Regions from separate parts of the Homo sapiens genome. Here region 2 is linked to region 1. The links come from fine-mapping of genetic effects on gene expression. Tissue or cell type: lung. Region 1 holds a variant in brackets; the other region holds the start of a gene. All regions are shown on one strand. Distances are from middle to middle.

Region 1 (4,346 bases):
GCTAATATTTATATTTTTAGTAGATACAGGGTTTCACCACATTGGCCAGGTTGGTCTCAAGCGATCTGTCCTCAACTCCTGGCCTCAAATGATCCACCTGCCTTAGTCTCCCAAAGTGCTGGGATTACAGTCATATATCACCATGCTCGGCCAAAATAAAGACAAAGATTTTTACGTTTTTAAGGATAAGATCAACTTATGACTATAGGCACAGAGCCAGGACAGGACTCTAGGTCTCCTGACAGTAAGGAAGAGATATTATAATGTCTTGAGGTTAAAAGGAAGGAGATCTTCAAATGGTTAATGCTCAGTAATGACTATGGACATTCTTCTATTTTGGTTATAGAGAAACAAACCCTGGATTTTTGCTTCTTAGTTTTCTTTTGGATTACTTAAGGGGTGAGTATTCTTTAGGTGACGGTGCTGATTATGATCCAGTCTATGATTAACACATTTATTACCTAATCTTTTTCCGGGTAACTGAAGTTTAATGTTTGCTGAATTATAGTTGATTGAGAAAGAGGACCTTAAGGAGAGATTTCAGCATCACTTCCACTGAGATTTATTTTTAAAAAGGTTATAGGGTGGTTATTGCCATGCTATTGAGATATCCAGGTGAGCTTTGCATATTTCAGATGCAATTCTCTGGTACAGTTCTATTTTCAGTAAACCTACCCCAATTTCAAAGCTCTAATCAAAAAAGAGGTTGTATTGGCCAGATGCAGTGGCTCACACCTGTAATCCCAGCACTTTGGGAGGCTGAGGCGGGTGGATCACATGAGGCCAGGAGTTCAAGACCAGCCTGGCCAACATAGCAAAACCCCGTCTCTACTAAAAAGACAAAAATTAGTTGGTGTGGTGGTTCACATCTGTAATCCCAGCTACTTGGGAGGCTGAGGCACAAGAATCGCTTGAACCAGGGAGGCGGAGGTTGCAGTGAGCCAAGACTGCCCCACTGTACTCCAGCCTGGGTGACATAGCGAGACTCTGTCTCAAAAAATAAAAATAAAAATAAAAATAATTTTTTTTTAAAAAAAGGTTGTATATGTAATCCCAGCACTTTGGGAGGCCGAGGCAGGCGTATCACCTGAGGTCAGGAGTTCAAGACCAGCATGGCCAATATGGTGAAACCCTATCTCTACTAAAAATACAAAAATTAGCCGGGCGTGTTAGTGGACACTTGTAACCCCAGCTACTCGGGAGACTGAGGCAGGAGAATCGCTTGAACCCCAGAGGCAGAGGTTGCAGTGAGCAGAGATCATACCACACTGCACTCCAGCCTGGATTACAAGAGCAAAACTCCATCTCAAAAAAAAAGAAAAAAGAAAGAAATCAAAACTTAAACACACATTATTTTATTTGATCCTTACAAAAATTCTCTGAGGTAGACAGAAGAGGTTTCTTCCCTGATCACAGAAGAGAAAACAAAGGCTCAAGGAAGTTAATTATTATAACTATTCTACAGCTAATAAGTTGGTTATGCAGTCATTAAGTCTTTATTGAACATCTCTAGCATCCAGGCATTGGGTTAAGGAACCGGGACTCAAGTTCAAATGAATCACACCTCAGTGTTGTTTCTCTTATTTGGAGTAGTTCTTTAATGCATCAGTTTTAAAAGACTGAAAGTTTTAAACTTAGGGTGGCTTTCTTACAACTTAAAACTGTTTAATAGAGAATTCTTAATTCACATAGTATAATATAATATACCCAGCAACATTCTGCAACAGGCCAGGCGCGGTGGCTCACGCCTGTAATCACAGCACTTTGGGAGGCCAAGGCAGGTGGATGATCCAAGTTCATGAGTTCGAGACCAGCCTAGCCAACATGGAGAAACCCTGTCTCTACTAAAAATACAAAAAAAAAAAAAATTAGCTGGGCCTGGTGGCATACTCCTGTAGTCCCAGCTACTGGGGAGGCTGAGGCAGGAGAATCACTTGAACCCAGGAGGCGAAGGTTGCAGTGAACTGCACTCCAGCTGGGACGACAGAACAAGACTCTGCCTAAAAAAAAAAAAATTATGCAACAGTTGACTACAATCAAAAGAGAAAAGTAAAGGTTGACTTTTCTAACTATGGTATTTTGCCTGCTAGGCATTCTAGGTTTTTATTTTAAAAATTTCTTAGGAAACTCCAGCTGTTACAAGGAAGTATTGCTTTTGGTTTAATGTTTTATCCTGCTAGTGCACTCCACCCTTAAGTGATCTTGGTGACTAATAGGACTGGCACCAGTTCTCACTTACCAGATGTGAATTCCACTTACTAGTTTGTTTTTTGTCTTCTGCTAATTTGCAGTTGTAGACAAAAACGGAGTAAAGAAGTTCTTAAAATAAATGAAAATCGGCAATGTAGTCGCTCTTTAATTTTTGAATTGGCCTGGCGCAGTGGCCTCACCTAAGAGTCATATGGTTGTTA[T/G]GTTCCCTGATGTTAGGGGGCCCTCCCCTGCAGCCCACAGTGACTCAGAAGGCAGCTGCCGAGAACAGGAAGGCCTGGGGTTCATGTGACAAGCCACCAGCCTTTACCAGAGCAAACAAAGTAGGTGGGATGTTCCCCTGTCCCCTGCCCACCAGTTTTATAACACATTTCAGGGCTTTTTTTTTCCCTTCCTCAGACTGCTCTGAATTTTCTCTTTGACCTAATTTGATTTGTGGAGAAATGCTGTCGAAAGGGCCTGCTGAGATTTTGTCCTGGCCTGCCTCACTGAAGAAGGCCAACAATCTGTTTGCATAGCAAGAATGAAAAAAATGTTTCTGTGCTTCAGAGATTACTGAATACTTTTTCCAAAATGAATCTGTTCCTTCTAGCAGGGATCGTTTTGCTAGTTGGGAAGATAAAGCTGTCAATATTCAGTAGCTAATCTCTAGATTTCTTTCTGTGATGGAGTCTAGCTCAGTGCAGGCTGAGGGGCAGTGGCACGATCTCAGCTCACTGCAACCTCCCACTCCTGGGTTCAAGCGATTCTCCTGCCTCAGCCTCCCAAGTAGCTGGGATTACAGGCACGCGCCATCACACCTGGCTAATTTTTGTATTTTTGGTAGAGATGGGGTTTCACCATATTGGCCAGGCTGGTCTCAACTCCTGATCTCAAGTGATCCACCCGCCTTGGCCTCCCATAATGCTAGGATTACAGGGGTGAGCCATCACATGTAGCACCAATCTCTAGATTTCAAGAGACCACATATTGTCACAGCTTCTTGGAGATTTTCTTCACTGGATTTAAGTCATTGTTCTCCAAAGTGTGTTCTGAGAGCTACCTACATTTGAATCATCTAGATTAAGGTATCATCATCTCTACTAAAGGACCTTGTAATCTGTGTTTTTTTTTTTTGAGATGAAGTCTCCCTCTATTGCCCAGGCTGGAGTGCAATGGTGCAATCTTGGCTTACTGGCAACCTCCGCCTCCAGGGTTCAAGCAATTATCTGCCTCAGCCTCCCGAATAGCTGGGATTACTGGCACCCGCCACCACACCCAGCTAATTTTTGTATTTTTAGTAGACATGGGGTTTCACCATCTTGGTCAGGCTGGCCTTGAACTCCTGACCTTGTGATCCACCCACCTCGGCCTCCCAAAGTGGTGGGATTACAGGCGTGAGCCACTGCGCCCGGCCCGGAATCTGTTTTTAACAAGCACTACAACTCCCCAGAATTCTTTTTTTTTTTTTTTTTTTGAGATGGAGTCCCTCTCTGTGGCCCAGGCTGGAGTGCAGTGGCGTGATCTCGGCTTACTGCAACCTCCAGCTCCTGGGTTCAAGCAATTTTCCTGCCTCAGCCTCCCGAGTAGCTGGGGTTACAGGCGCCCACCACCACGCTGGCTAATTTTTTGCGTGTATTTTTAGTAGAGACAGGGTTTCACCATCTTGGACAGGCTGGTCTTGAACTAACCTCATGATCCACCTGCCTCGGCCTCCCAAAGTGCTGGGATTACAGGTGTGAGCCACCGCACCGGGCCAAAATTTATTTTTTTGCACAAAATTAACTTAGCTAAATCAGAGTTCACAAGCCTTCACTGGTAATGTGACCCACAGGAGAGAGTCCTGGGGCAGAGGAGGAGTCTTGTTTATGCCTTTCCTGTTTCCATTCCTGTACTCCCTGTCCCTGCCAAAATGCCATTTCTGATAGTGTTGGTCACTGCAGAAGGAAACAGGAAAAAACAGGAAGGAACTGAGGAAACTTCAGTGTTCCCTCTTGATTACAGTAGTGTGGGAAACAGGCCTGGGTTTAGAAAGCAATGCAGCAGAATGCTTAAAAATCATTCACAAAGCTTGGTAAAACCACAGACTCCCCTTCTCCCCATTCTAATTAAGTGGGTATGCGGTGGGGCCTCAGAACCTATATTTGTAAAAATACCTA
Region 2 (4,016 bases), 46 kb before region 1:
CACTGACTCAGCAACTTTCTTTTTTACTTTACAACCTGTACTTAAGGTGCAAGCATATGACTGAAACCTAGCTTTCAATTTTTCTTTTTTTTTTTTTTAATCAGGCAGCCTCCAGAACCAGAGTAGGCTCTAAGAGATTCCCCTAGCTTTCAAACTGAGCAGCAAAGCCAATGCAAAACCAGTATTTGTTTTGGCAGGAAGCTCCAGTGAAAATATGAGATGTTTTGGTCTTAACTGGCAGATACACAAAGAGCAAAGAAAGGTGCCTTATTGAGTTATTATTTATAATGTAAAATCCCTTGTGTATAGCTACAAATCCACTTTTATTGCAGATACTTAATATGTTTCTTTATAGAAAGTAGCTCAACCAAATAATCTCCCAAATTTGGCACCAGGAATTGTTACAGCCTACACACCACTACAGTTCCTTGTAATTTAAAACATTTGCGTTTTAAGAATAGTCTCCACACTCCAACTATGCTGCCAATTTCTTCAGCTAAAAGCTTAAGTTTATACTACAAAATACTGTATTTACTCTCGACAATAGAATGCACTCATTTACAAAGCATACAGGACTAAATTACTCCAATATGCAACTTCAAAATTTCTCCAATATACAACGACAACATTTCTAACATCATAGCTTTTCTATTACCCAAATCAGTAAGTCTAAATAGTAGTACTGTACACTGCACGAGGTACTATTGGCCAAAGTCAAGTCGCATATGATCAGTTCACTACAACAGGTTATACAAAAGATCAGACCCCTAATCTCAATAAACTATTTTGCAAAATGGTCAACGGAGATACCAATGCGGAGGAAAGTGTGGATTGAGTGGCAGAAAACCCTTTGCCACTACTGAAAAAAAAAACAAGTCAAAGCAAGCCTATATGACAGGCAGATCATGTTCATGAATACAAATCTAACTTCATTGCCGACTTCCCAGTCTCACAGCAAGACGGCAGTTTACCAACTCTTTAACAGTAATACAAAGAACAGGACAGAAAATATAGTTTCTTTTTTGCATGCTATAGTGATCAAGAATAAAGGATACCTTTAATGTTCAAAGATGAAAACTTCCTTTTGCAACTAATATTGCTCTTATCGCGTGTACACAGAAAAATCATACAACGCTCTGCATTTCTGATAGAGTAATACACACTATCACATCAAATCAAGTATTTATCCAGAACTTAGCGCCTTAGCACTAACGTTCTCCCCTCTCATTATACACAGACCGGAAGGGAAAACCTATTCCTACGTAAATTAGGGCCTAGGAAGAACGCCTCAACACGGGTTTGCACACAATTAAGCAGGCTCAGTGGGTCAATTTCTCAGGCTACAACGCTTGACAGTATCTCGGAGGCACAAAGAGACAGCTGAGGGTTCACTACTGGAAATGACACTTTCCCTCAAATTTGCACAAGTACCCGCGGTAACTACCCTAAATTTTCCCGTGTGACAAACATACATAAGGGGAGAAGGAGGCGGTACTATTTAAAAACTGGGTAATTCCTTATTAGTGCAGATAAAAGACGGTCTTCGAGAGGGAAAAGGTCTATCAAGCAGAAAAGGGGAGGAAAAAAAAAAAGACGTGACAGCATTCTTAAAACAGAAAAAGTTACAGCTCTTTACAGGAGTCAGCCTTAGGACTTCATTCCTTGGTTTTGTGTTTAGTCACTCCAGAGTTAAAAGGATACTGCCCTCCTAGAAAGTCATCCCCGACAAAGAAGCCCTGAGGATCGGCCACCGTAAGACAGAGAAGGAAATGTCTTCAATTCACCAGAGACACCTGCCCAGGTCCCCCTCCTCCCCGTTGTCCCCGACACTTCTCAGTCCCCCGACTCCTCTCGAGACTGCCCGCCACCCCTGGCTCTAGCTCTCCGCTCTCTCAGCCTCGACCCCCTCTGGGAAGCCCCGATCCTGCTCCCTCCGCACCCCGGCCCCCACCAAAGCGGCCGTCGCCCCGGCGGTCCCCCGGGCCCAGACCCCTCGCGCTTGTACGCAAACGATTCTCATGGGCCCGGCGGGCGACGCGGGGAGGCTCTTCAGGGGCAGCCTTTCCCCGACTGCATCCCGCAGGATCCGGGGACTCCCCGCCCCCGGAAACCGCGGAGAAACTAGGCCACGAACGCCAGCCGCGGCCACTCTCCGCCTCCTCGGCGACCCCCCGCGGGCCAGCCACTCGGAACTCAGCCCTCCGGGCTCTACCTGTCCCGCGCCCTCCCAGCCTTGCAGCGCAGGCCCCGCGAGGGCACGGCGCAGGCTTCCTCCGCCAAAGGCCCCGCGCCGCAGCCTCACCTGCTGCCTGCTCCTCTGTCAGCGCAGCCCCGACACGGCTTCTTCCTGGGGCAAGAAAGCACCGGATTCGCGGACTGGGCGCGCTCGGCAGGGCAGGGCGGGGGACTAGCTCCAGCGGCCGCCGCCGCCTCAGTCCGGTCTGCGCCTGCGCCGCCTCGCGGGCAGGGTCTCCGAGGGGCGCCGCCTACAGCCAGGGGCGATGGCCGGAGCGCTGGCCCGCGCGGGTGCCTCCGCGCTGTGAGCCGTCGGACAGTGCGGGCGGCGCGTCGCCTAGGAGCTGCCCGCGGCGCAGCCGTCCCAAGACCTGACCGCCATGTTTCTGTTCCCTTTTTCTCCCCCGCCTTCCGCCCCTTTCCACAAAACAGCACTTTCTTTTCCCCCTCCCTCTCCCTTTCCTCCTGCGGGGGCGGGTGGAAAAGGGCGGGGGGTGGGAGGGAGAAGACGCAGGGAGGAGGGGGGCGGTGCGGTGCTCAGGCCCCTCCCCCGGGGAGGGCCGAGGCCCTGCAGCCACCGCTCCCCTCCCCCGCCCGACCCCTGTGCGACCCCCGCGGGGCGCGGGGTCTGAGCCTTGCGGGCCTCCGATCCCCTCCTCAGCGTTCGCGCGGCCGAGCCTGCAGAAACAGAGCTGGGGAGAAAGCGCTCTGGAGGCCGCTGTGCACCCCTTCCTGCAGGGCTCAGACTGGCGGTGTGATGTGGGTTTATTGCCTTGGCCTGAGGCAGGTGGCGGCTGCTTCTCTCGGAGTTTTCAAAGACAGGGAAAGTGATGCCGAGTGGCTGAAGGTCACTGAGGACAGTGCCGGGAGATACGTGAAGATTCCTTCCCAGGGAAGGAATCTGGAATTCCCACGCATGAGTAGAGGGCTCTAGAGAGACCCGCGCGCTGGCCCTTCCCGAAACCCCTTGGCTCCAGTGCACCATGTGAGTCCCTGGCCGCGCTCGGTGTCTCTCCTTCGGCCCAGATTTGGGGATGGGAATTCCTAATGGAGAAATCGCTCATTTGCATAGTCAGTACCCTCACGCCTCCTAAGTGTAGCCTCATTATCGACACAGACGCCTGCAGAGTCGTTTCTCTATAATGCAAATTTTGCAGGATATTTTTGAACAACGTTTTTGAGTTATCATAGTAAATGAAAAAGCAATTACTAGTTATTTAGGAAGAAGGAAATGGTTTGAAGTAGAGATAACTTTTTTACCTCTGGGGGGAAAAAAAGGCGAATGACTTCAGATTCCATGGCAGGTCAAAATCAGAACTGGTAAGATTTCTGCATATCTGGTGAGTATCCACATAAATAATCATTTTCCTGAAAATTACACTCTCCTTATTTAATCTGTATTTTTGCATAAAAATGTGAGATTATACCTGGGTCATAAATGCACTGCTGTCCATTTATTTCTGAAGTTTATTGCATAGCCATGGATAATTTGAGTTTTATATTCAATAGCAGAAACTATTTTTCTAACCACGTAAGCAGTCAGAATTGATTTCAGAAGAAATGCGCAGCAATAAAAGTTAAGGCTTATTTAATAACAGTTTGGGGCCAATTTGGTCCCCCTGGAAACTATCTTTGACATTGACAATCCGAAGAGCAAAAGTTTAAGAAAGGATCTAATACTTCAAAATTTAGCTTGTGGGCCGGACGCGGTGGTTCACGTCTGTAATCCCAGCACTTTGGGAGGCTGAGGCGGGCGGATCACCTGAGGTCGAGAGTTCCAG

Evidence for each region. PIP is the estimated chance that this variant, and not a neighbour inherited with it, causes the effect.
Region 2: it holds the start of DENND4C, and the variant in region 1 is fine-mapped to the expression of DENND4C in lung (TOPMed, PIP above 0.99). The same link has a PIP of 0.9 or more in aorta, breast, esophagus muscle, fibroblasts, subcutaneous fat and sun-exposed skin.

What each region holds. Positions count from the first base shown.
Region 1 is chr9:19,182,552-19,186,897 of GRCh38, reverse strand. No RefSeq gene overlaps it. Among named protein-coding and RNA genes, the nearest start is that of DENND4C, 46 kb to the left of the region's middle. RefSeq lists enhancers at 1-394, 2,373-2,422. The variant T/G (reference allele first, on the strand shown) is at 2,412.
Region 2 is chr9:19,229,120-19,233,135 of GRCh38, reverse strand. It overlaps DENND4C (DENN domain containing 4C), which reads right to left and starts at 2,443. Exons shown (of 33, transcript NM_001330640.2): 1 at 2,303-2,443. RefSeq lists silencers at 1,896-2,035, 2,256-2,625, 2,706-3,005 and enhancers at 1,639-2,144, 2,145-2,651, 3,036-3,285.